Linked DNA regions of Homo sapiens: all the other regions are linked to region 1. The links come from fine-mapping of genetic effects on gene expression. A gene starts in region 1. Each other region holds a variant in brackets. All regions are shown on one strand. Distances are between the middles of the regions.

Evidence for each region. PIP is the estimated chance that this variant, and not a neighbour inherited with it, causes the effect.
Region 2: its variant is the best candidate, but not a certain one, in a credible set for the expression of KIFC3 in whole blood (TOPMed, PIP 0.88).
Region 3: its variant is the best candidate, but not a certain one, in a credible set for the expression of KIFC3 in whole blood (TOPMed, PIP 0.87).

What each region holds. Positions count from the first base shown.
Region 1 is chr16:57,799,728-57,810,930 of GRCh38, forward strand. It overlaps KIFC3 (kinesin family member C3), which reads right to left and starts at 2,764. Exons shown (of 20, transcript NM_001130100.2): 1 at 2,643-2,764. LOC388282 (a long non-coding RNA gene) reads left to right here and starts at 10,792. Exons shown (of 4, transcript NR_169553.1): 1 at 10,792-11,057. RefSeq lists enhancers at 1,707-2,383, 3,061-3,737, 10,507-10,636, 10,827-10,886, 10,947-11,006.
Region 2 is chr16:57,886,812-57,891,811 of GRCh38, forward strand. CNGB1 (cyclic nucleotide gated channel subunit beta 1) reads right to left here. Exons shown (of 33, transcript NM_001297.5): 32 at 1,044-1,263. Among named protein-coding and RNA genes, the nearest start is that of CNGB1, 82 kb to the right of the region's middle. The variant C/G (reference allele first, on the strand shown) is at 2,944.
Region 3 is chr16:57,770,400-57,781,602 of GRCh38, forward strand. KIFC3 (kinesin family member C3) reads right to left here. Exons shown (of 20, transcript NM_001130100.2): 4 at 1,824-1,889; 5 at 1,144-1,287; 6 at 799-1,038; 7 at 128-301. MIR6772 (microRNA 6772) reads right to left here and starts at 1,953; the gene lies at 1,890-1,953. RefSeq lists enhancers at 4,243-4,821, 5,372-5,431, 5,400-5,978. The variant G/A (reference allele first, on the strand shown) is at 4,631.

The DNA of each region.
Region 1 (11,203 bases):
GGGCTCACTGCGGGGTGGAAAGCTGCAGAAGGAAGCTGAGAGAGGGACAGGAGCTCCAGGCAAGTATAGAGTTTTCAGAAGTGACTGAAGTGTAAGTGGGAAGGAGAGGTTGGTCAGTGCCCAGTGCATCATGCCAAAGAGACGTGGAGGACTGAAAGCCCAGACAGGCAGAAAGCCTGAGCCTGTGGAGGGAGAAGGGCAGATGGCAAACTTCGGAGGGCTCAAAGAGTGGGGCGGGAGCTGGGGGAGGAAGCAGCCACTTCCTTCTCCTTGGGGGTGTTTGGCTAGGATGGGAAGGAGAGGATGTGGTGTCTAGAATAGGGGGAGAGTTGAGCATATTGGGGAGACAGAGAGACAGGAGTGACTAAAGCATTGAGAGGCAAAAATAAATAAATAAATAAATAATAAAGTAAAGGGTCCAGGGGTTAGGGGCCTGAAGATCTGGTGTCTGATGTTTGCAGAGCCCAACCCTGGAAGAATGCCAGGCACCTGGCGAGGAAGCCATGGTCTCTTCCTTCCTTGACTTAGAACAACTAGGAGGCTCCTAGGTTCAGTCTTACTGGGAAGGGGATGGGAATGTGGGCCAAAGGACAGGGCAGAGGCTGATCTAAATACGTGGGCCAGCTCCACTGAGGAAACTGAGATGGACCAGTGTGGCGTGGAAGAAACCAAGGGGAGCAGCCAAATGTCCTCTTCTCCAGGCTGCCTGGCACAGAGCTGGGCACACAACCAACCCTGCAGACCAGCTGTCCAATGGGCAAGGGAAGGAGCAAGGCAGGTCCATCTGCAGTCTCGGCTGCTGGGAAGGTGAGACAGTGCAGGGCATTGGAGGCTGACTCCACAGTGGACAGAGAAGACTTTCAGGGAGATCAGCTCAGCTCAGTCTGAGGGGCAGGGACAGGAGGAGATAGCGTTTCTGCGGTTATCAGGAAGGGAAGTGGAGGAGGCAGCCAGGAAGATATCGGGAAGAAAGAGGAAGGGCGTGTGCTAGATCCCGAAGAGGAAAAAGCAGCTGAATTTAGCAGCCTCAGGGGTGTGAAGGTCAAAAGTATCAAGGAATCTTAAGCCCAGGGTTCTGGGCCAAGAAAGCAGGACTCTCTCTCATTTACATGGGCATCTGAGATGAAACCTGGTGTCCGGGGACTTCTACCAACCTAGGATTCGTGGGGGAGGGCAGTGGGACTGGTTCAGAACCTGGCTCCCCTGTTTACTAGATGTCTGACCTTGGGAGAATTACTTTGCCTCTCCGTACTTCATTATCTCCATCTATAAAATGGGGAGAACACCACCTTATAGGGTTGCTCTAAAGATTAGACAAGGCCAAGTGTTCAGAACAATACTGGCATATACAAAGAGCTCCAAAATTTTATTTTTCAGTTACTTTGCTCCAGTGGTGGGTGAATGCAGAGGGCCTGGCTGGGGAAGAGGGTCTCTGCCTCTCTGGGTTTAGACCAGGACAGCAGAGCTGCAATACTCCCCCTGCCCTAGATCAGGGACATTGCAAAGACTGGGGGGACAGGCTGGACAGCTGCTCAGAGACTGCAGCAAGCAGGGCTTGGTCGCCCTGGGAGAGCAGGCAGAAGGTCAAGGAAGTTGTACAGGGAATGCCACCTCCCTGCACACCATCATCTATCCTGGGCTTTCCAGGGCAACCTAGATTTCAAACCCTCTGCTCCCTGGTGCCCCTGTGAACAGCAGAACTCACCACCCTGTGCCCCTAAAGTCCACTCACTGCAAATGCAGGGCCCCATTCTGAGACTGCATTCCTAGCAAATGACTCTCCCTGGTCAAGGAGACGGCTACTCTAACAAGGGCATGGGGAATACACGTCTGGGAAAGAATGGGTGCTCACCCTGTTCAGGCAGAGGAAAAGCCGGGGAAGGTGAAAGACCAGGGGTGGCCACAACCCGCAATCTTGAGACAGTGTTGGGGTATGGAGGTGGGGGCTGGGTGGCAGTAAATGGTACTCCAGAATTTAATTAAACACAGCTTCCTCTTTAATATCTCCCAGGACCAGGCCCTTCACTGCACCAGCCAGAGTTCTGCTCTAACTAGCAATGCTGGGCTTAAAGGGGTGGTCCTGGGATCGCCCTCCCTGCTGAGACCCTCACAACTGCTGCGGCTGTCAATGGCCCGATTCCTCACTGCCCGGAGGGCACCGGCCAAGGCCCTTCTTCCTAACCTCTGGGCGGGCGCACCCCGCCCCAGGCCCTGCCAGGGAAAAAGCGAACTCCCCAAGGGACGTGGTGGGAGGGACCCAAAGGCAGCCTTCCAGGGAGCCCTGGGGGTGGGGAAGACGCCAGGAAGGGGAGAGGGCGGCGCCGATTGACAAGCCCATCCCGGGTAGGGTCTGCGCTCTTCTCGTTCAATAAAATCCAAACGGGGTCCCGAGGCTGCTCGGATCCCGTGGGACACGCCGCCCCTGTGCCCAGCTCCCAGCAAGGTCCTCGACTCGGGCTGAACGGCGCTGGAGGGGACCTCGCAGGGCTGGGTCTCCCGGGCCTTTCCCTCCCCGCGCCCATAGCGGGTCCGGGCAGAGGGGTCCCGAGGGCAGGGCCGGCCCGGACGCGGCGCCCCAAACGGCGGGCCGGGCAGAGCCCAGCGCCCCGCTCGCACCCAGCCCGCCCGGGCCCCCCACTCACCGGCCTGGCGGAGGCAGGATCCAGGCGTCGCCGCAGCGCCCGGGGCTCGGCCCGGCCCGGCCCGCCGGCAGGAGGCAGCTCCACGCCGCCGCCTCCTCCTCGGCCAGCCCGCTCGCGCCCCTCCCGCACACTTTCCACAGGAAATGATTAACTCGGGCCGCGGCGCGTTCCCATGGCAACCGGCTCCGACCCCGGCGGGGGGCGGCGGCGCGCGCCCGCACTCACGCGCACTGGCGCGCACGCGTCAGCCCGGGCGCGCCCCCGCAGGTCTCCCGCCGGCACTCCCACTCCCACTCCCACTCCTTCGCGGGGCCTCCCACTCGGTCTCTCCCGCCTCCCCGCGTCCCGCACTCGCACTGGCACACGTGCTCATGCGTTCCCTGAAGGCTCTCACAAAACAGGCCTGCACACGGGCTGGCACACACGAGGCAGCCCACACAGCCCCACACCTGGTGAGCCATGCGTACTTTTGCACAGCCTCAAACCCGAGTGCAAAACTTCCACGCGAGTACTCACACATACACTTCTCACGCGGGCTCTCATACCAGTACGTGTCTTCCCATCCCAACACACACACAAGCTCTTACTCACGAGACAATACATGTACATCCCTTACCGTGTCCTTGCACGCGCTGGCGCACATGCACTCACACTGTTTACAGCGCACACGCTCTCACTCGCTCCACCACCTACTCGCTGGCCAGGCCGCCTTCTAGCCACAGCACTTCCTACCTCTGCACCCCCAGCCCCACCCCAGCAAATGAATATCTTCCCAGCAAGGAAGCTGCCTGGAGTCCCTTAAGGTAAAACACACCAATGGTGCAGCAGTTCCCGGCCTTGCTGCAGAAGGCCCTGCTACTGGGGCACCTAGAGCCTCAGAAGAGGCCTGGGGGAGGCCAGGGGCCTGCCAGCCGGGAGAGACAGCTGACCTGGAGGAGCCACTCTGTTCTTTGTCTCCCAAACAGAGGCAGCATTTTATTCCAGAGCCAGCAGCAATATTCTCCCTCACTCTCCACACCCCCGGGTGCGGAAGAGGAGAAAGCAAGTCACTCTGAAGCCAGCCCATGCAGGCTGACGGTTCTGCAGATAATCCCAGGAGGGCGGGTACTCTGTCCCTTCCTGCTTGTCAGGGGATGGCCCAAGAAGATCAAGGAGAGGACTGGAGGGGGTCGGGCAACTCCAGGTGGGTTCTATCTCCTGCTGCCGCCCAGGCGCTGGGCTGCCAGTCAAGAATCTCGACCAGCGACGGAGCCAAGGGCCTGGGCCTCAGATTGTTCTGGACGCCAGAGCAGGACAGTCACAGTCCCCCAGCTGGAAGCAGCCTAGTGCATGCTTTATTTGACAACTGAGATTCCTCAGTGAAGGCCTGATAGAGGGTGAATGTAACGCTCCTGGAATCATTCCCTAGAGAGTTAGATTTCCAGCTGAACACCACACTGGAGAACCCTTCCAATGGGAGAGAAAGCCTTATTTGGGGAGTTATGATCTCTGAATTCCTCTGCCTGCCCTCCAAACAGCAGTGATCCAGGGGACCGCAAGGGTGGATGAAGGCAAAATGTCTCTAGAATTCTGATTTAGTATCTATCTCCCTTGATTATAGTCCCTATGAGTTGATGGGGCGGGGGATGGGGAGGACAGAATGTCTTTAAAGTCCTGGTTCAAAACTGGAGACTTTTTCTTACTCAGGGATTGAGTACATTGACATTAACTGTAGGTCCTTCCCACCAAAGCCAAAGCCAGATTTTTAAATTAATAATAACATTTATTGTTCTTTTGCTTTGATTACAAAAGTAATAGATGTTCATTGTAACCATATCCCACACACTGGAGATAAATGCTGCCAACACTTTAGAAGTCTTTTTTTTTCCTGTGTACATAATAGATGCCATTATTGAAGCTAACACTGTGTCAGGCACAGCACTAAGCTCTTTATAAACAAAATCCCATTTAACCCTGAACACCCTATGAACACCAGTACTGTTTCAGGACACCCGTGTTTCAGGAAAGGAAACTGAGCCTCAGAAAGTTTGTTCACAAATGCAGTGTGTGATAGAGCTATGACTCCAATAGGTACTCACACAGTACTATCAGATGCATATGGGTATAACAACTTATTAAGATCAAAGCACCAGCGAAGGAAAAAGGAAATTGAAGTGTAAGGAGGTTGTATTTTTGGAATTCTAGCAAAACTCCGATTTGAAACGTAAAAACTACTTGTTTCATGGTTGTTGCATTTTTGAGACAAGATCTTGATCTGTTGCCCAGGCTGGAGTGCAGTGATGCAATCATAGCTCACTATAGCCCCGAACTCCTGGGATCAAGTGATCCTCCCACCTGAGCCTCCTGAGTAGCTGGGACTACAGGCACACACCAGTGTGCCTAGCTAATTTTTTTTTTTTTTAAGTAGAGATGGGGGTGTCTCACTATGTTGCCCAGGCTGGTCTCAAACTCCTGGGCTCAAGGGATCCTTCTACCTTGGCTTTCCAAAGTCCTGGGATTACAGATGTGAAGATGTGAATCACTGTGCCTGACTCAATTTTTTTTTTTTTTTTTGAGACGGGGGCTCGCTCTGTCACCCAAGCTGGAGTGCAGTGGGATTACAGGCGCACACCACCACACCCAGCTAATTTTTTATATTTTTGGTAGAGACAGGGTTTCACCATGTTGGACAGGCTGGTTTCGAACTCCTGACCTCAAGTGATCCCCCTGCCTCGGCCTCCCAAAATGTTGGGATTGCAGGCATGAGCCACCGTGCCCAGCATGACTCAGTTTTTTAAAAAGAATATTGTGTGGAGTCGGGGTCTAGCTCTGTCGCCCTGGTTGGTCTCAGAATCTTAGCCTCAAGCGATCATCCTGCTTCAGCCTCCCAAAGTGCTGGGATTATTTGCATGAGCCACCATACCATGCCCATCCCAGTTGTTGGAATTTAAGAATGTACAATGTCATCAGGAACTACGTACCAACTCCAAGGTCATTTCTAACCCAGAAACTTCGCTGATGATTTGCATAGGAGGCTGCCAACTCTCCTGGCCCCGGGAAAGGTGCAAGTTTTGCTGAAACCTGGCCATTCCAACACTGAAGTCCTAAACCCTTGAGGGAGGACTCTTGGGTTCAGCCTTAGCCTTGACCCTTCCTGCCGAACTCTGGCAGAGGCACAGCTGTCTCAGGGAGGGCCAGACAGAAGACAGTGTCCAGAACACTGCAATTCCACGCCCACATCCACCCCATCCCCAGGCAGGGACTAGCAGCGCCATCTTTGTGTTCAGACAAGATCAGGTGTGTTCACGGTGGTATGCCCATAGACTTTTTTTTTTTTTTTTTTTTGAGACAGAGTCTCACTCTGTTGCCCAGGCTGGAGTGCAGTGGCGCAATCTCGGCTCACTGAAATCTCTGCCTCCTGGGTTCAAGCAATTCTCCTGCCTCAGCCTCCCAAGTGGCTGGGATTACAGGCATGCGCCACCACGCCCAGCTAATTTTTGTATTTTTAGTAGAGACGGTGTTTTGCCATGTTGGCCAGGCTGCTTTCAAACTCCTAATTTTTGTATTTTTAGTAGAGACGGGGTTTTGCCACGTTGGCCAGGCTGCTTGCGAACTCCTGACCTGAGGTGATCTGCCCGCCTCAACCTCCCAAAGTGCTGGGATTACAAGCATGAGCCACCACACCTGACCCATCTTTGTGTTCAGAGGGCCTGAAACCCTTTACTGCTCAGGCATTCGTCAGAGAAGTGGCCAAGAGCCTGAGAGTTCTGCTCCCCAAAGGGAAGGAAAGAAGGGGAATGAAAAGTCAGATTGTGTTTAATCTGATTCTCATAGCAACCCAGAGTAAAGCACAGATAAGATTTACATGATTTTCCCATTTTAAATGATTTAACCTCAGATCAAGTCTTCTCCGAGCCTTTGCAAATGTTGTCCTCCCTGCCTGGAAAGCCCCTCTCCTTCACCCCATTCTCATCTGCCTCCACTAACCCTTACCTGGCCAATTCCATACCTGCTTGTCCCTCCTTCAAGTTTAGAGGTCACCTTCTTTGACCCTCCCAGGCACCAGCAGGCGGGCTCAACTCACCCCCTGCAGCATCCCCGACCCTGGATCATGATGGCGTTCCTGTGTATACCATCTGCTCCTTCAGGACAGGACCCTTTCGTTACTTGATCACAGGGAAATCCTCAGCTGACCCCAGCTCAGGGCCTGGTATCACAGACATGTTCATTGAATAAATCCATAGATCCCATAGAATTCAGAAGGGAAGAACAGGTGCGTGAAATGTACCCAAACAGACTTTCTTCCCATGTAAAGTAATGATAATTTCTACCAAAAGGAAGTAAGAGAAGGCTCCTTAGCAATTATTTCCATGTGGTCAGGAAGGAGTGCCCTGCAGCTGTGAAAAGTGTGTCCTCTCATGCTTCTGGGTAACAGAACATTTATTGAAGTTGGAGAAACTCATTCTGGAGTGAGCCGCATATTAAGTAATCCTGACCCAATTAGCTGCTTTTTTGAATCCACATCTTCCAATCTTCCAATCCCTCTGAAATCATTCATCATGAGCACCGCAGAAAGAACTACGGAGGAGGCTGGACGTGGTGGCTCACGCCTGTAATCCCAGCACTTTGGGAGGCTGAGGCGGGCAATCACCTGAGGTCAGCAGTTCGAGACCAGCCTGGCCAACATGGCTAAACCCCATCTCTATTAAAAATACAAAAATTACCCGATGTGCTGGTGGGCGCCTGTAATCCCAGCTACTTAGGAGGCTGAGGCAGGAGAATTGCTTGAACCCAGGAGGTGGAGGTTGCAGTGAGCAAAGATCATGCCACTGCACTCCAGCCTGGGCAACAGAGCAAGACTTTGTCTAAAAAAAGAAAAAAAAAAACCCCGTGGAAGAGCTCTTGGAGGTGAAGAGCCTGGCACTGCACCCAGCCCCATAAGCATGAATTTGGTTTCCAGCTTTGCATGTCACCAACTGCAGGTCTTGGGCACATGACTCACCCTGAGCACCTCAGGGGGTCTGGCACAAGGCTCACAGCTGCAAGCTCTCAGGAAGCCAGGCTCCTCAGTGGGCATGGAGAGGTGGTGGTCTTGGATGTCCCTTGACTGGACTGTAAATTCCTGTCATCCTTGTCTGCTCTAGACCCAGCTCAGCAAGCATTAGGTGTTCAAGTGATATTTAAACTAATGGTACTTTTCTCACTCTTTTCTCTCCCTCTCACCTTCCTGCTCCCTGTGTCCCTTCCTTTCTAGAAGCTGTATTAACAGGGGAAAACAGTTCTCCCATTTTCAGAGAACCAAGGCAATCTTTCCCCCAAGAAAATCACCTTGCCGGCCAGGCACAGTGGCTCATGAGACAGGAGGATCGCTTGAGGCCAGGAGTTCTAGACCAGCCTGAACAACATATTGAGACCCTGTCTCTACAAAACAACAAGCCAGGCGCGGTGGCACAGGCCTGTGGTCCCAGCTACTCAGGAGGCTGAGGCGGGAGGATGGCGTGGGCCCAGGAGTTTGAGGCTGCAGTAAGCTATGATCGTGTCACTGTACTCCAGCCTGGGCAACAGAGCAAGATCCTGTCTTAAAAAAAAAAAAAAAAAAAAAAAAAAAAAACCTTCTAAGAGGACTAGAAAATAAAAAGGAAACCACCTTGCTTTAAAATCCAAATGGTGGCTGCCTTTCTGCATTGGCCAAAAAGACTGAACTCGACAGTTCTCCCCTAACTCTCAGTTTAGGGGAACCTAAAGCCTTATGACTCAAGGAGGAATTTGGCGGAGATTCCCTCCCTCCTAGCACTCCAAGGCTAAAAGCAAACGGAGGCTTTGTGAGGTTTTTTTTCCCCTTTTATCATTTCCTGTAGTCTTAAAAAAATGAGAGGAATGCAAACATTGAGGAGATAATGGACGTAAGCACCAGGTAATAAAAAGATTTAGCAATAACCGCCCTGAGAGTAGCACGGGCCAAATAAGCCCCGCCCCCGGCCCGCCTCTCAGCCCGAGGATCCTCCCACCATCCTCCAGAAGCCGCCGGGCTCCTCCTTGCTAAGTGTTCTGCCGCTTCTCTCCTTGCTCCTAAATTGTTATAGCTCCGGGTTCTAAACCAGCACATGCGTTATTAACATCCTTCGCATTTTTCCCCACTTCCTCATTCACTTCTCCCCACCTGCTGCAAATTCTAGGTGGCAGTTTTTGTTTTTGAACTTAAAATTTTTTTTTTTCTGCACAAATCTAATAGAAACCAAGAGAGAGAGGAAAAACACAAAAACTAAAACACCAAATCCCACCACCCTTCACTTATTGTCATTGGCCCAGATTTTTCTTTCCAGTATCTGACCTTGAGCTGATGTCATTTCTGTGTTAAGGAGAGACAGTATAGAGAGATGGCTAAAGGTGGTTCTGAGGCCAGGCAGACCTGGGTTTGAGCTCATTCACTGGCTCAGTCACTTCTGCTGTGCCTCAGTTTCCTCCTGTGAAAATGAGAGTAGGGCTAGTGTCTAACCCATTGAGTTATGGTGAGATGTAAATTGGAGCAAGCACATAGCACCCTCAGCCCAGCATCTGGCACACAATTGGCATTTCTGCAAACACAAGCTGCAGTTATAGTGGGAGGCAAAGACCGGATAGAATTTTTTACTCTGCCTTTTCTTACTTTGAATCATGTAAGTGCTGGGTGTGGTGGCTCATGCCTGTAGTCCCAGCTTCTTGGAAGGCAGAGGTGGGAGGATCGCTTAAGCCCAGGAGTTGGTCAGCCTGGCCAACATAGCAAGACTCCCATCTCTAAATTTTTTTTAATTATTATAATAAGCATTTTCCATGTCACTTTTTCCTGCTAATGCCTACATTTTTCTGAAGTGCAGACATCATAGGATAAAGCCAAGGTCACATTCAGAATGGAGGTTCCAGTGTCTGGGGCGCACCTAGCACTCAATAAAAATGGCTGAAAAGTATTTCATTTATTCACTTATTTAGAGTTGGGGTCTCGCTCTCTCACCCAGGCTGGAGTGAGGTGGCATGATCAGAGCTCACTGCAGCCTTAAACTCCTGAGTTGAAGCAGTCCTCCCACCTCAGCCTCCCGTGTACTGGAACTACAGCTGTGAGCCACTGCACCCAGCAAAAAACTATTTTAAATGGCTGCATAATATTCCACTGAGAGCCTGTGCCCTGACTGAGCTGGCCATTCCGTAGGGTCTGATATTTGAGTAGCTCCCATTTTTGTCACTTTTATAAACAGCATTGCTGTCACCATTGCCACCCACACAGCCCGTTCATTCCCTGGTGTGGGGAGGGAAGGGAGAAGAGAGGTTGTCAATTTCATAAAAAATCTTTCTGAATAAAGAGTCTGAGCATTTTTTTTTCACTTTCTAAACATGTTGCCAGATTGCCCCTCAGAAGGCCTGTACCAAATTTACACTGTCGTTGGCAGCATTTTTTGACGAGAACTACTTTTCACGCTAATTTACAGTTTTTCTCTTGGATCTGGAATTCTCGCCCTGGCTGGTTCTCCTGGGAGGCATGAGGCATATATAAAGATATCTGAGCGATGGCTGTCACCAGAGGGGCGTATCTGGTTCTTCTGCCAGGTGCTCAGGCCGGGAGTGTTTCTGTCTGCTGGGCCAGGCCAGGTGGGGCTGAGAGCACTGACTCAGTGCTCCCAATCCCTGCCTGCTGTTAAGCCCTCAGAGATCTTCTGAGGTCAGTCCTGGAACGCCTCAGTACCCCGCGGTCCAACACTCTGGCCCATCCTAGACGGATGAGTCTCATCTGGTGCCACCACCATGATTCCTGCTCTCACACCCTGGCACTTCACTGGGGCTCCTTGCAGTAAGTCAATCAGCTACTACTGGGGGAAAAAAAAATTCCTCCTGGGTGGGGAGATGGGGACAGGGGCCATAAGGGAAGCCACGTGCTCCTGGAAAGCCATAGCCACAGCCCCTGACCACCTGCTGAACTCTTAGCACCACTGCTGCTGCTGCCTTTAAACTGTAGCTTCGCTTTGCTGAGGTTCTGTGGTGCGCAGCCTCTCCCCTAGCTCTGGTCCTCCTCCTCTGGGGGTGGCCCTTGTTTGCAAACAGCAACAGGAAGTTTTGACGCTGCTGATTAACTAGACTCCCACAGCTCTCAGTGCTGAGTCATCGCCACCAGTGTCAACCTCCCGCCCGCCCCGCTGACACCACCAGCTTCCAGGTGACCGAGAGGAAGCAGCAAGGATCCTGCGGTTCCAGTGGCTTCCATCTGCCACCTTCCAAGGGAGGGGAGGGACAAACTTCCATCCACCCCAGACAACCAGAATGTGCAGGGCCCTGAATGCCAGGACGGGAATTTAATCTAATTCAACTTCAGCAATGGGCTGAGGGACAGCTTCATGCCAGGCAAAGGGAAAAACTCTTTACACACAGGATTGCCTTTGCTTTCATTCAATCCCCGCAACAACATGTGTGGTAGGTGTTATTATTCCCATTGTACAGATGGAGAGACTGAGGCCAGTGGAAGGCCTATGGATGTGTAGGGGCTGCTGTGGGAAGATAGCTTGGAGTGCCAGAGATGGTGGGTACCGCCAGCAGGAGCTGTGTCCCCAACCCACGAT
Region 2 (5,000 bases), 84 kb after region 1:
ATAGGTTTATGGGGGTGGGGACATTTGGCATTTTGCCTGTGTGAGAGGTTTTCACTTTCAAATTTTTATTTTTCATTTTTTGAGACAGGGTCTCACTCTGTCACCCAGGCTGGAGTGCAATGGTGCAATCATAGCTCACTGCAGTCTCGACTTCCTGGGCTCAAGTGATGCTCCCAACTCAGCCTCCCAAGTAGCTAGGACCACAGGCATGTGCCACTAAGCCTGGCTAATTAAAAAGAAAAAAAGAAAAAATTTGTAGAGACAAGTTCTCGCTATGTTGCCCAGGCTGGTCTTGAAATCCTGGCCTGAAGAGATCCTCCTGCCTTGGCCTTTCAAAGTGCTGGGATTACAAGTGTGAGCTACCATGCCTGACCCAAATATCTTAAATTGTCACAGACACAGTATTAAATATGAGGACACACTGTCTTCTGGGGCCGGACATTTGCTTCTCATACCCTCTCCTCTAACCTCTGCAACAGTATCAAGACTGCCTTTTAGAGATCCTGCTCCCAGCCTACTCTCAGTCCAGGGGCGGGTATGTGACCCAGGCCTCTTTAGAGCACCATAGTGCCCTGGCCACACCGAATGGCTCAAGAATTGGCATGTGACCCAATTCTGTCCAATGACAGTGAGTCCTGGAACTTTTGCTAGAATCCCTGGGAAAGAGGTGCTTTCTTTCTGTTGGAGTTGCTATGCCAGGAGGATGTCATCCTAGATAGAACTCTTGAGAACCTGTCTGGAGATAAAACCATCACTGAATAAAGCAGAGATGACACGATGGGAAAACTCGTCCTGTTGGCATCTTTCGGGCTTTTGGATCCAGGCTTGCCTGAACTTTTCGATTACGTGACCCCTAATTCCCGTTTTTCTCAAGCTAATTTGAGCTTGCACTCTGTCACTGGTAACCAAATGAGCCCTGACTGATAGAAAAAGGAGGGGGAAGACCCTAAAACTAAATGTGTGGCCCACTCTTGGAGACCCCTTGGCCTTCTCCCTGACACATATTGAAATGAACGTGGTGGCTGGGTTCCCAACCACATTACCTGTTCCACCAACTCTTGCTGCTTTGCAGCCGCCTCCAGCGCGGCCAGTTCTTTGAGCCGGGCCCGGAGGTGAGCAAGTTTGCCGCCTTTTGCCCCCTTGCCACCCATCTTTCCTGTCATAGCGAGGGCAGCGTTGAAGAGCTTTGGGGTGCCCGCCCGGGGTGGAAGGATCAGCACGCTCTTCTCCTCCTTGGGCTTATTGTTGCTTCTCAGCATGCGCCTGGAAGAAAGCAGCATCCATTGACATCACAGACGCACTCTGGGGGAAAAGAAAGACTCGCTTCTGCAGCCTCCTTTAAGCTGGAGCTGTGTAGTGGTGGTGATTTTGGCTGGTGATTGTAGAGAGTTTTTTCTGGGCCAAGCGTCGTGTTAAGTACTTTATGCATTGCATCTCATTGAAGGATCAGAACAACTGTAATGAGGTGGGTCTTACTGTCTGTTGTACCTTAGAGATGAGGAAAATGATGCTCAGAGAGGTTGAATAACTTGTCTGAGGTCACACAGCTACGAAATTCTTCTCTTTCCTTCCTTTCTGTCTCTCTCTCTCTCCTCTCTCTTCTGTCTTCTCTCCTCTCTCCTCTTCTCTTCCTCTCTCTCTCTGTCTCTGTCTCTGTCTCTCTCTCTCTCTCTTTCTCACAGGGTCTGGCTCTGTCGCCCAGGCAGGAGTGTAGTGGCGTGATCATGGCTTACTGCAGCCTTGACCTCCATGGCTCAAGCAATCCTCCCACCTGAGTAGCTGGAACTACAGGTATGCACCACCACAATTTTTTATCTTTTTGTAGAGACAGGGTTTCGCCATGTTGCCCAGGCTGGTCTCAAACTCCTGGGCTCAAGCGATCTACCCGCCTTGGCCTCCCAAAGTGTTGAAATTACAGGTGTGAGGCACCGCGCCTGGCCTCTTTCTTTTTTTTAACCAGCAGAAGAGTTAGGAAATCCTGAAGGACACTTTCACATAGGGAATTGGGAATAAGATGCCCAGGTGGAAAAGGAACCAAAGCTCTTTCCTTCTCCTTCTGCTTCACTGTCACCTCCCCCTCGTCACCATCACAATTATCAGCATTTACTGAGTGTCTGTATATGCCAGGCCCTCTGCTCCATCCTTTGCAGGCACCCTTCAGTGGCTCCTATTACCCCCTTCCTGGTGTTCACGCCTCTGTGTGGTCCCCTTCCCTTGAGGATGGGTGGGGTACGTGTCTTGCTTTTAAACAATCGAATACAACAAGGGCTATCACTGGTAGAATATGTCACACAGGATTGTGATCTCTGTCTTGCAAGGGGACTCTCCCTTGCTGACTTTATTTATTTTTTATTTGATTTTTATTTTAAGTAATAGAGACGGGGTCTCCCTATGTTGCTCAGGCTGGTCTTGAACTCCTGGGCTCGAGCAATCCTCCTGCCATGGCCTCGCAAAGTGCTGGGATTACAGGCACGAGCCACAGTGCCTGGCCTCCCTTGATGACTTTGATGTAGGGAGCAGCCAGCTGTGTTGGAGAAGGCCCACATGGCAAGGACCTGAGGCCAGCCACTGGCCAATTGCTAGTGGGAGCTGGGGCCCCAGTCCTACAACCCCAAGGAACTGAATTACACCAACAACCATGTGATCCTGGAAGTGGGTCCTTCCCCCATCCAGACTTGAGATGAGAGCCTGCTCTGGAAGACATCTTGATGACAATCTTGCAGAGGACCTAGCTAAGCCATGTCCGGACTTCTAACCCACAGAAACTGAGATCGCAAATGTGTGACTTTAAACAGCTAAATTTGTGGTAATACTGTTATGCTAATACATACTCTCTCATTTAAGTCTCACAACAATCCCCATAAGTAGGTCTTATTATTCATCCTCATTTCCAAATGAGGGTATAGAAGTTCAGAGGGGGTGAGTAACTTTCCCAAGGCCACA[C/G]AGCTAAGAAGCGGCAAAGCTAGAATTCAAACCCACACTTCTGACCCCAGTGCCCCAGATATTAATGATTACAAAACGACATTGCATCATTATCTTCCTGGGCACTGACAAATACCCCTGTGACATGGAAAGGGCTGAGATTATTGTGCCTCTGACAGTTGGGGAAATTGAGGCTCAGAGCAGGGGGAGTGACGTGCCCAAGGTTACCAGGAAGTGGCAGAAGCAGAATTGCCACCCACATCTAATGGCATGTACCACCCTGTTTCTCTAGATAAGGGTAGATTTTCCATCAAAGAGAGCCCTAGCTTTTTACCGGCAATTTTTCACACTACAAACATGCGGTGAGCAGTTTGTCTCAAGAACAAATGAATTCTGCCTGCAACCAGCGGGCCTAGACAATGAATTGGCAAATTCATTCATCAAGGCTCCAGCAAAACTTGTTTGTTTAAAAATGAGGCCATTACTGGCTGCTTATCTAATCAGAGGCAATGGGTTTAAATTGTGCATGTTGATATTAATTGCCCAAGATTTGCATTTCTAGCTGGAGATCCCCCAGGAGAACACAAACATGATAATTCACCAGACGCCTCTGACACGCGCCAGCTCGGCACTGTCCCCCATGTTATTTGAGTCCATAATTCATGATGTGACAGCCCACAGGAAGGCTGAGGGTGCTGTGAAAATGAACTATCTTTTTCTTTCTAACAAAATAACTATGTATAGGACCTTTGCTGATTGCTACTAGCTGTCTCTGTTTGGAAACATTGAGCTAGCTTCTGGGGCATTTCCAGATTAGGGAAATTTGTCCTCATTTTCTGATGATGTATGCTTCCCTGTAACTGAGATTGAGCAATCAGCCTGGAGCAAGTGACCCACATAAGACCTCTTCATCCTCTTTTTTGGAGTGGTCAAGCCGGAGATCTCAGCACTTCACTTCTTTGGGGACCCAGGTCCCCCATCTGCAAAGCAGGGAGCTTGGACAGAATCCCACACGTGGCCCTCACCAACTCAGATGTCCCCGGGACTATGGTTCTCAGACAGTGTATCTCCCCTGATGAGCAGAGCTCATACACAATCCCCTGCCTCTCTGGTCAAGCTGGCCTGGCCAGCAAACAACCACTCTGATGACTCATGGCTGAGACCCCCATTCCCACGCCCCCCCATGTTGCTGTGAGGCCTGTTAGCCCCATTCCTTCGCCTGGCTGCCTCCCACCCACACCTCAGCCTTCTCAGTGTGGACACAGGTGCACAGGCACTGTCAGGAATGGGGGCCTCTGCACAGCTCTTGGGAGGTGCCTTTGGGGTCCCATCTGATTTGCCAAACTCTTGCCTAACCCACCCAGCAGGATGGGTAACAGCTAAAAGCATGGCTTTCCTGAGCTTTGCTCCTCCTGGTGGGGGTGGGGGCAAGAAGAGAGGGTGGGGAGACCTGGTACCAGTTTTCAGTCATAAGCAGTTGAATCTCATGATTTGTAGTAATTATGTCCTATAAGATCTCTGCGGACACTGAATTAGCAAAAATGGAAACATTGTTCCTAGGGGAAATACAAGGCTAGATTCCTACAAATCTCCCATCACAACATTCATCAACCATAATACATGAACTTGGCCAGGCGTGGTGGTTCACACACAGTCCCAGAACACTGGGAGGCCAAGGCGGGAGATTTCTTGAGCCCAGGAGTTCGAGGCTGCAGTGAGCTATGATCGTGTCACTGCACTCCAGCCTGGGTGAAAGAGCACGACCCTGTCTCTAAAATTAATAATAATAAACTTGTCTTATGTGTGTTTCTTTTTAAAGACATTATTATTATTATTATTTTGAGACAGAGTCTCACTTTGTTGCCCAGGCTGCATTACAGTGGTGTGATCTTGGCTCACTGCAACCTCTGCCTCCCAGGGTCAAGCCATTCTCCTGCCTCAGCCTCCCGGGTAGCTGGGATGATAGGTGCCCATGACCACGCCTGGCTAATTTTTGTATTTTTAGTAGAGATGGGGTTTCACCATGTTGGCCAGGCTGATCCTGAACTCCTGACCTCAGGTGATCCACCCACCTCAGC
Region 3 (11,203 bases), 29 kb before region 1:
GGCCATCGGGGAGAGGAGGGACTGGACCCCGTGTCTGTGGGGTACCCAAATGTTTAACCGATGCATTGGCCCAAGGGCCTGCCTCTGGCTTCCTGGCTGGGCATGTGCCCCCACACAGCCTGGGTACCTGCGCCCGGAGCCGCGCGGTCAGCTGGTGTGAGCTCTGCAGCTGCTGTTCCATCTCCTTCAGCACCTGCCTCTGCATAGCCACCTGCTCCTGCAGGTGCTGGTTCCGGGCCTGGGACTCGCTGAGGGCCTGCTTGGTCTTGGACGACTCCACCTCCACTGTCTTGATGACATACTGCAGGGTGAGGGAGGAATGGCACGTGGAGCCAGCGGGCACCGTACCTCACCCAAGAGCCTGAGACGCAGCAGGCCAGGGGAAGGAACTCTCGGGAACATCCCACTCAGAAACCAGAAAAAAACTAGAGGAGCCTTGAGGTCCTGGCTTTCCAGAAAGCTGGGGGGGTCTCCTGGAACCTTCTCAGCTTAACAAGAGGCTACTATGAGCCTGGCTGGGGCCCCATCCTGGGTACAGACAAGAAAGGCAAAAAGACGAGGGCAGAATCCAGGGGCTGCGCTGCATCTGTGCCTGGCACCTCAGCTGTTGGATACCTACTCGGTGCCTGGCCCTGGATACAGGAAGGGGAAGGGGCAGGACCAAGCACAGAACTGGAATGATTCTTCCACCCACACACACCTACCTATTCACCAGGACAAGCCCCCCTTATGGGCTAGCCCTGCCCCAGGTGCCAGGGGCCTTGGGCTGAGGCACAGATCAGGTGGGCCAGGGCTCACCTTGACAGGTGGGGACTGGGCCCGCAGGCTGGCAATGGTCTCGTGGCTGTCACGCAGGCGCCGACTAAGCCGCTCCTCCTCCTGTGCCTTCTCAGCCAGGCAGTCCTTGAGTCGCAGCTCCACCTCAGCCAGCCGGTCGGTCTTCTGCTGCACCTCTAGGTTCAGCTCTGACAGCATGCCTTTGCTTTCCGCCATCTCCAGCTGCAGCTGGGACAGCTTGTCACGGAGCTGGGCGCTCTCCTGCAGCCATTGGGAGGCACTGGATGAGTGCAAGGGACAGGCTCACTGTGAGGAGCTGGGGTGGCCCTCCAGGACCAGCATGGGGACCACGGCCATTCTGCTCACCTGGCTGTGCTCACAACCTGGGCAGGGACCTGCTGGCTTTGTGCGCAGCTCTTGCAGCTCGGCCTCACAGCGCCGCATCTCCTGCCTCAGTCGCTCATTCTCCACCATCAGCAGGTCCCGGTGCTTCTCCAAGTCGGTGCCCCCCTGCAGAGAGCCAGGGCCGAGGGGGCGCATGTGGCGAGGGCAGATGACGGGGGAAAGAAGAGAGGCCCGCGGAGATGGCACAAGGGCAGGGAAGAGAGGAGAGGTGTGGAGAAAGGCAGAGGGAAGGAGAAAAAGAAAAAGAAAAAGGCAAGGGCAAGAGAGGAGGGAACAAGCTCAAGAGAGAAACCAAGAGAAAGACAGTGGAGGGCAGAGTTGAGAAGGGTGGTGACCCAGAGCCTGCTCTCCCTGCTGCCCCCACCCTATTCTGAGTGTGAAAGTCACAAGGAGAGACATATTTATACCAGGGTTCACACTCCCGTTTAATGTCAGCAACAGAGAAGGAACCTCCCACCCCCTGGAGCCACAAGGCCTCTGAGGGTACTAGGAGGTGGGGATAAGGCTCTCGGTGTGTTTCTGAGACAGGGTGGGATATGCGGGCTCAGGAGAGAGAGGGTCGCACCCCTGCCCCTGGCAGGGCCCATCTGCACAAGGCAGGCCAGGCCCTGCGCTACCCCAGGACAGCCTTGTGGCCTCACCAGCTCAGATCGCAGTCGGCTCACTTCCTGGGCCTGGCTAATGAGCTTCTCCTTCAGGTGTTCTACCTGTGGGCACAGAGTCAGGAGCAAGGTGAGCCTCAGTCCTCAGCTCCAGCCTACACCCAGGCCTCCTGCCCAGCACCAGGGATGACTGATGTGGCTGTGGCTTCTTCTAAGGCTGTGGCCTTAGGTTCCCCTATGTTCAAGCATCCCATCACACCTGGGACTTCAGGTGAGAGAAACCTGGGCTGGTGCTGACAGCCTCCCGCACCCTCTCCCTCCACAGGACAGAGCCAACCCCAGCTCTTCAGGAAAGCCCAGAGGGCAAGTGCAACCAAGGCCACCCCGATGCCCCCTGGGCCCACCCAACGGCAGCCCACCCTCAGGACCCCTCACTACACGAGCCCCTCCCAAAGTCCTGTACCTGCCTGTGTCTATGTAATTTTATGTTCTCTCTCTTTAAAAGGGCCCCCAGATGGTACATACTCCAGGTCCTCCGAGCCCTAGATCCACCCTGGCCCAGCCCCCAGAATTTTCCACTTGGGGTGGTCTCTGGCAAGTCAGCCTGTGGAGATGGGTCTGCCAGTGGTCAGGGCACACTCAGAACCTGTGTCCACCCCTGCTCCCAATCTGCCTTGCAGGAAAGCTGTGGCAGCCAAGGCTCTTATAGGGGGAAGGGGGTGTGCACCCCATGAGGAAGCCACGGTTACCTAGCTTATCCGGACCCCAGAAGAGGGGACACCATCATGGTGCCAGTCCCATGAGGGCAGATCCCAGGGGAGCAACCCTTCCCCGGCGCTGTCCTCCAGCCACCCATCCCCTCCCAAGGCCCTAGACCCTGGTCTCACATCAGCCCACCCCCAGAAACCTCTCTCAGGAAACAATTCACAGACACAGACTTTGGCTCCAGCTTCCGTCAGGGCATGTTTAGTACTTTTCTTGCAGAACGTCCTGTGGTGAGCAACCCCCACCTCGGGAAAGGTGCGCTAAGAGCCAGATTCCTGTGTGGTGGTTTAGGAGGTTTACACAGCTGGGTTCTCATTACTAAATGATAGGCAACAACGTCCACTGATTACAGGGGACAGCCAGGTAAGGCAGGTGAGGGGCTGTGCAGGGCTTGGCTCCCAAGAACCCTTTAAGAAGGCGGCCACCACGTACTCTCCTCGGACGACAGGAGGTGAGAACGCACACCCAGCATCGCCAAAATTCTCATCTTTCAAGAGAGGCCTAGGCCAGCCTGAGCAACACAGCAAGACCCCATCTCTACAAAAAGTTTCAAAACTCAGCCGAGTGCACCAGTGCACGCTTATAATCCCAGCTGTAATCCGGGGGGTTAGGTGGGAGATCACCTGAGCCCAGGAGTTTGAAGCTGCAGTAAGCTATGATAGCATCACTGTACCCCAGGGTGACAGAGCGAGGCTGTCTAAAAAAAATAAAATAAAAATAGAGGCTTAGAGTCCGCCCCCTTAGCACTCAGCAGCATGCATCAGCCATAGTTAAGACAGGCCGGACATTTGGATTTTGGGGGTGTGTGTAAAATCTCCCTACTTTACATGGTTGAGATGTCATCAAACAAGTCTGTGTCATCAAACAAGGTAGTGTTCGGCCTCGGAGGTCCCTGTCTCCCAGGGTGGGAGAGAACGGCTGACTCACAGCAGCTAGGCCAGCTCTGAGTGGTCAGGGAGGAAGTGGACCAAGGGATCCACCCCCACCTCTGAGGAAAAGGCCAGGGAGCTGGCACTGCCTGCTCTTGGTGGGGCAGGGGGATTCCAAGATGCAAGACCCAGGTGAAAGGCTGGGGGCCCAGCCAGGCCTCCTGGGGGACAAGCAGGTGACCCAAGGGCCAGACCCCTGGAGGTCAGCTCTGCCGCCACCTGCACAAACACATTCCTTCCTAGCAACACGCTGGGCCACGGGCCAGGCAGGGAGGCAGAGCTTGTGCCACTTCTCTGCCCGCTCAGTGCCTGATGAGAGGACGGCTCAAGTCCTTTGGCCCCTGGGTGGGAGTAGGGACAGTTTGCATGAGGCAGCCTTTCTGCTTTCGTCCTAAAATTGAGAATACCCTGAATAAGCACCCTTAGAGGAGTGGGCAGGTGAATTACAATGTGTATATATAGTACATAGACTATTCTGTCATCATTACATTCATGTTTATCAGGAGTTTTAAATGTCATGGGGAAAGGCTCATCAACATATTAAGTCCAAGAAACATCTGAAAAACCATTAAGTGTACAGCACTAAAAAGTGGGGGTCTCTGGGCTGTGGAATTATAGTTGACAAAATCTTTATGCTTTTCAGTAATTTTTTTTTTTCTTTTTGAGACAGGGTCTCACTCTGTCACCCAGGCTGGAGTGCAGTGCCTCGATCTAGGCTCACTGCAGCCTAGACCTCCTGGACTCAAGCCATCCTCCCATCTCAGCCTCCCGAGTAGCTGGGACTACAAGCACATACCATCACGCCCGGCTAATTTTTTTTTTTTTTTTAATGTATAGAAGGGTCTTGCCATTTTGCCCAAGCTGGCCTTGAATTCCTGGCCTCAAGCAGTCTTCCCGCCTCAGCCTCCCAAAGTGCTGGGATTACCGTTGTGAGCCCCTGCGCCCGGCCAGTAATTTTTCAGTCTCAAAGAATACGTAATTCCTACTCTCCCTACCCTGACATAAGTGAACTGACTTCCTCTTCAAAAGGTTGAAGTCTCCTTCCACGCCCCCTCCCTCCCCAGAAAGGCTGCTGCCTCAGCATGGGGCTGGGCGCACTAACCTTGATCATCTCCACTGCCGCCCCTGCCAGGCACTCAGACCCTGATGCAG[G/A]GAGAGTGGGGTTTGCCAGTGTTTGCTGGGGGTGGGAGGCGGGATACCCACCAGCCACCTGCCTGCGGCCCAGGGTTCTGTTCTGTCCTTGCATCACAATGGGAACCTGGGGGCTCCTGGGCTCTGTCCAGAATCTCAGAGGGGCACCCAAAAGGAAGTGGCCGCAACCGCAACCAGGGCAGGCTGGGGAGCATGGGGGATGGTGAGGGAGTTGAGGAAGGGGCTCTAAAGGCCCCTTTGTTCAGAGGTGTCAGACACTAGGTCATCTCTGGCTTCTTGAGGGCAGCAAAGCAGGGGGAATGTGACTGAGACGCAGCAGACTGGCACCACGAGCACTCTGGCCAAGGCACCAGTGGCCTGCTCCGTGGCAGGTGGTTGGCCAGCTCTACTGGGGGCTAGGTCTCGGGCTTGTAGGGAAGATGTCTGCTTTCTCCTGCACTTGAAGGCAGGCAATCTCTCAGAGTTAGGGAAAACAGGCAAGAAGTCAGAGAGAAACGGAGGCACCTGGGGAAAGCGGATGGAAGATGGCCTGGGAGCAGTGAGAGCCAAGAGCAGGCAGGGCCTTCCTCAGGGAAGACTGAGGGCCCTTCACACACTCACCGCAGCTTCCAGCCAGCAAGGGCCGTCCATGTCTCTAAGCCCAACAGGGGAGGGTCCCGAGTGCCACCCTGGGCCCGATACATACTTGTGGCCACAAAGGGGCAGCAGGCACATGCCTGAGCCCAAGACACAGGACGGAGGAGAAAGCAGACTCCCCACTAGGCGGCTGAAACGGTCCCAGGACAGCATGGACGTCAATCCAGGGCTGAGGACGGACCAGGCTGGGGCTGTGCGACACTCCTCCCGGGCCCAGGCTCCTCATCAGCCAGAGCAACTGAATCACGGGCCTGCTGCAGGGGGCGTCACCCTGCCTGCTCAAGGGGAAGAGGGAGCTGGGCCTGTCTGCCGGCTTGACACCACCTGCATTTACACTTCACAGGCAGAAGCGGCTCGACCAAGGGTGGGGCCAGCCAGCCCAGGTCTTTGTGTTTTCTCAGCTGTCTGCTTCCAAGGCGGCCTCTTACCATCACAGAAAGAAAACCTGCTGGTTACCTCCTTACCTCCCACCAAGCCCAGTCAACGATCATCAGCTGTCTGCTGAGGAAAAGCGGGCTCTCCCAGGCTGAAGCTGCTGAGCTGGGAAGGCCAGAGGGTCTGGGATCCAGACAACCTCAAGGAAACTCAGCCCAGAGGCCAGCGGGGCGGCCCTGGGAGCACACCCTGTGGAGCCCACAGAAGGCCTGATCCTGGCTGTATGACCACCGGCCAGGCCTATCTGTCCCCTGTCCACGCCACCCTGCCTCTGTTGCCAAGTCTTCACCTCTGGGTCCTTCCGCCACTGATGGGCAGTAATAGCAGCTGACAATTCGAATTCTAAAGCCAGGCTGCCCAGGTTCTAATCCAGACATCCCCTTACCTGCTGGGTAACCTTGGACAAGTCTCTTAAGTTCTCTATGTCTCTTAGTTTCCTTATTTGTATAATGAGGCTACCTCATGGAAGCTGTCTCGAGGATTAAACGAGATGATATATGCGAAGGCAGGGATTTTTGTCTGTTGTGTTCAGCACTGTACTCCCAGTGCCTGGAACAGTGCCTGGTACACAGTAGGTGTTCAGTAAGTACCTGTAGGAAGAATGCTGAATGCATGAGGGGCCAGCCAGAGCAGAACTTGTGGATGAGGTTGGTAAGCAGAGACAGAAAGGGTGGTGGGGCTGGAGCGTGCTAAAGGATGGTCACCTCCACCAAAGGCAGGAGCTGCCACTAGACCTCAAGCGGTGGGTGCCATGTGGGAATGTCAGCTCAGAGGTGCCACATCTTCCAATATTTTATGACAAAAAGGAAGTCTAGAGTTTTATGTGAATTTAATTAAGATTTGAATGTTGGAATTAATTTGATTTTAAAAGCAGGGCAATTAGAACTAATAAATTCAGCAAAGTTGAAGGATACAAAATGAACACACAAAAATCGGTTACATTTCTACAACTAACAATAAACAATCCAAAAAGGAAATTAAGAAAATAATTCCATTTACAATAGCATCAAAAAGAATAAAGTACCGAGGAATAAACTTAACAAAGGTTAAATATTGTATGCTAAAAACTACAAGATATTGGTGAAAGAAATTAAAGATGACACCAATAAATGGAAAGACATTCCATGTTCATGGATTAGAAGATTTAATATTGATAAGGTGTCAGTACTACCCAAAGTGATCTACAGATTCAATGCAATGCCTAACAAAATCCCAATGACATTTTCTAAAGAAATAGAAAAATCCATATCAAGGGACACCACATAGCTAAAACAGTCTTGAAAGACTGAAGGTCTCACACTTCCTGATTTCAAAACTCACTAAAAAGCTACAGCAATTGGCCAGGCGCGGTGGCTCATGCCTGTAATCCCAGCACTTTGGGAGGCCGAGGCAGGCGGATCACCTGAGGTCAGAAGTTTGAGGCCACCCTGGCCAACGTGACGAAACCCCATCTCTACTAAAAATACAAAAATTAGCCGGGCCTCATGGCAGGCGCCTGTAATCCCAGCTACTCAGGAGGCTGAGGCAGGAGAATCGCTTGAACCCGAGAGGCAGAGGTCGCAGTGAGCTGAGATTGCACCACTGCACTCCCGCCTGGGCAGCAGAGCAAGACTCCATCTCAAATAAAAAAAAAATTAAAAAAAAAAAAGCTACAGCAATCAAAGCAGTGTGGTACTGACATTAAAACAGACATAAAGAGCAATGGAATGGAATACAGAGTCCAGAAATAAACCCTCGCATATATGGTTAAATGATTTTTGACAAGGTTGCCAAGATCATTTAATGTGGGAAAGGATAATCTTTTCAACAAATGGTGCTGAGAAAACTGGATATCCACAGGCAAAAGAATGGAGTTGGATCCTTACCTTATACCATATACAAAAATTAACTCAAAATAGATCAAAGAGGGCCAGGCGTGGTGTAATCCCAGCACTTTGGGAGGCCAAGGTAGGAGGAGTGCTCGAGCCCAGGAGTTCAAGACCAGCCTGGGCAACATAGGGAAACCCTGTCTCTACAACAAGTAACCAAAATTAGCTGGGCACAGTGGCACACGCCTGTGGTCCCAGCTACTAGGGAGGCTGAGGCGGGCAGATCACTTGAGCCCAGGAGGCCAAGGCCACAGTGAGCCATGACTATACCACCACACTGCAGCCTGGGCAATACAGCAAGATCTTGTGTCAAAACAAAAAACAAAAAACCCCAAAGACCTAAATGTGAGAGCTAAAACTATAAAACTCTCAGAAGAAAATAGAGGAGAAAATGTCATGACATTAAATTTGGCAATGACTTCTTGGATATAACACCAAAAGCACAGGCAATAAAAGAAAAAATAGGTAAGTCAGACTTTATCAAAATTAAAAACTTTTGTATAACAAAGGACACTATCAACAGAGTGAAAAGGCAACACGTGGAAAATACTCGCAAATCATTTATCTGATAAGGAGTTATTATCCTGGATATATAAAGAACTATAACTCAACAACAACAAACCCAATTTAAGAATGAGCAAAGAACTTGAATAGCAATTTCTCCAGAGAAGACATACAAATAACTAAAACACACATGAAAAGATATTTAATATCACTGGCATTAGGGAAATGCAAATCAAAACCACTATGAGATACCACTGCACACCTATTAGGATGGCTGTTACAAAAATGAAAATAAGCAGGAGCGAGTCCCAGCTACTCCAGGAGGCTGAGGCACAAAGATTGCCTGAGGCCAGGAGTTCAGAGGCTACAGTGAGCTATGACCATGAACGGCCACTGCACTCTAGTCTGGGCAACATAGCGAGACCTCATCTCTACAAATAAATAAAGAAAATGAAAAACAAGTGCTGATAAGGATATGGAGAAACTGGAACCCGTGTGCACTGTTAGTGGGAATGTAAAATGGTGCGGCCACTATGGAAAACAGTATGATGGTTCCTCAAAAAATTAAAAATTGAACTATCATATGATCCAGCAATTCCATTTCTGGGTATATACCCAAAATAATTTAAAGGAGGGGTTCAAAGAGATACTTGTACACTCATGTTTATAGCAGCATTATTCACAGTAACCAAAAGGTGGAAGCAGCCCATGGATGGATGAATGGAAAAACAAAACAAACAAAACGTGGTATATCCATACAATGCAATATTACTCAGCCTTAAAAAGGAAGAAAATTCTGATGCATGCTACATAGATGAACTTTGAGGACATTATACTAAGTGAAATAAGCCAGTCACAGAAGGACAAATATTGGATGATTCCACTTACATGAGCAGTCAAACCCACGGAGACAGATGGCGAATGAGGAGTTACTCTTTAATGAGGCCCAAATTTCAGTAGCAGAAGATGAAAAGAGTTCTGGAGATGGATGGTGTATTAGTCAGTTTTCACACTGCTATAAAGAAATACCTGAGACTGGGTAATTTATAAAGAAAAGAGGTTTCATCAGGCATGGTGACTCACACCGGTAATCCCAGCACTTTGGGAGGCCGAGGCAGGTGGATCACTTGAGGTCAGGAGTCTGAGACCAGCCTGGCCAACATGGTGAAACCCTGTCTCTACTAAAAATACAAAAGCCGGGTGTGGTGGTGTACACCTGTAGTCCCAGCTATGCGGGAGCCGGAGACAGGAGAATCACTTGAACCCAGGAGGCGAAAGTTGCAGTGAGCTGAGATTGTGCCACTGTACTCCAGCCTGGGAGACAGAGACTCCATCTCAAAAAATAAAAATAAATAAATAAATAAATAAATAGATAGATAAATAAAAGAGGTTTAATTGACTCACAGTTCCACATGGCTGGGGAGGCCTCAGGAAACTTACAATCCTGGCAGAAGGAGGAGGAGACACAAAGCATGTCTTCTATGGCGGCAGGAGAGAGATAGTGAGCACATGAAGGGCAAACTGCCACTTTTAAACCATCAGACCTCATGAGAACTCACTATCACAAGAACTGCATGGAGGAAACCACCCCATGATCCGTTCACCTCTCACCAGGTCCCTCCCTTGACATGTGGGGATTACAATTCGAGATGAAATTTGGGTGGGGACACAGAGCCAAACTGTATCAGATGGTGATGGTTGTTGCACAATGAGAATGTACTGCTGCTGAACGTTACTCTCAAAAATGCTTCAGATCAGCCGGGCGCGGTGGCTCACGCCAATAATCCCAGCACTTTGGGAGGCTTAAGCAGGTGGATCACCTGAGGTCAGGAATTTAAGACCAGCCTGGCCAACATGGTGAAACCCCATCTCTACTAAAAATACAAAAATTAGCCAGGTGTGGTGGTGTGCACCTGTAGTCCCAGCTACTCAGGAGGCTGAAGTGGGAGAATTCCTTGAACTCAGGAGGCAGAGGTTGCAGTGAGCCGAGATCATGCCACTTCACTCCAGCCTGGGTGACAGAGCAAGATTCTCTCTCAAGAAAAAAAATATATATATATGCTTAAGATGGTAAATTTTATGTTACGTCTATTTTTAAAATGATTTAAAAAAAAAAAAAAGAAGAAGGCAGCAGCCAAACAAGACACATTTGAGGGCAAGATCTAGTTTTCCAGCCTGTGGTCTCTGAAGACAAATTTTTTTTTTTTTTTTTTTTTTTTTGAGATAGAGTCTTGCTCTGTCACCCAGGCTGGAGTGCAGTGGCGCAATCTTGGCTCACTGCAACCTCCACCTCCCGGGTTCAAGCAATTCTCCTGCCTCAGCCTCCCTAGTAGCTGGACTTACAGGTGTGCACCACCATGCCCGGCTAATTTTTGTATTTTTAGTAGAGACGGGGTTTCACCATGTTGGCCAGGCTGGTCTCGAACTCCTGACCTCAGAAGATCTGCCCACCTCGGCCTCCCAAAGTGCTGGGATTACAGGTGTGAGCCACCACACCTGGCCTGAAAACAATTTTTTAAGGTTCACTCTTGAGGTGCAGGGGGCAGGTAGGGAGTGCCGTGAGTGCCGGTCACAGTGGCTCATGCCTGTAATCCCAGCACTTTGGGAGGCTGAGGCAGTCAGATCTCTTGAGCCCAGGAGTTTGAGACGTGCCTGGGCAATATAGCAAGACTCCGTCTGGACAGAAAATACAAAAGTGGGCCAGGTGTGGTGGACACCTGTGGTCCTAGTTATTCAGGAGGCTTAGGTGGGAGGATGGCTTGAGCCCGGGAGGCAGGGGCTACAGTGAGCTGTGATCACGCCCCTGCACTCCAGCCTGGGTGACAGAGTGAGACCCTGCCTCAAAATAAAAAAGGAGTGTAGTGAGGTCTGGGCAGCATGTCACATTATTGGGAACTTCAGGAACCTTGAGGCCATGGCTCTAGGGACATTCACAAGAGGACAGGGGAACTCAAGGCCAGCAGGACATGGCCTGGGACTGTTGTTAACAACACTGGGGAGGGTCATCCCAACAGCCACAGCCTCCTGTGGTCACCAGACCAAGATGAGCAGCCTCTGTGGCCTGGGTCAGCTGGGTGCTCAAGGACTATGGGCCATTGGCCCAACTGCTCTCAGTAAATACAAACACCTC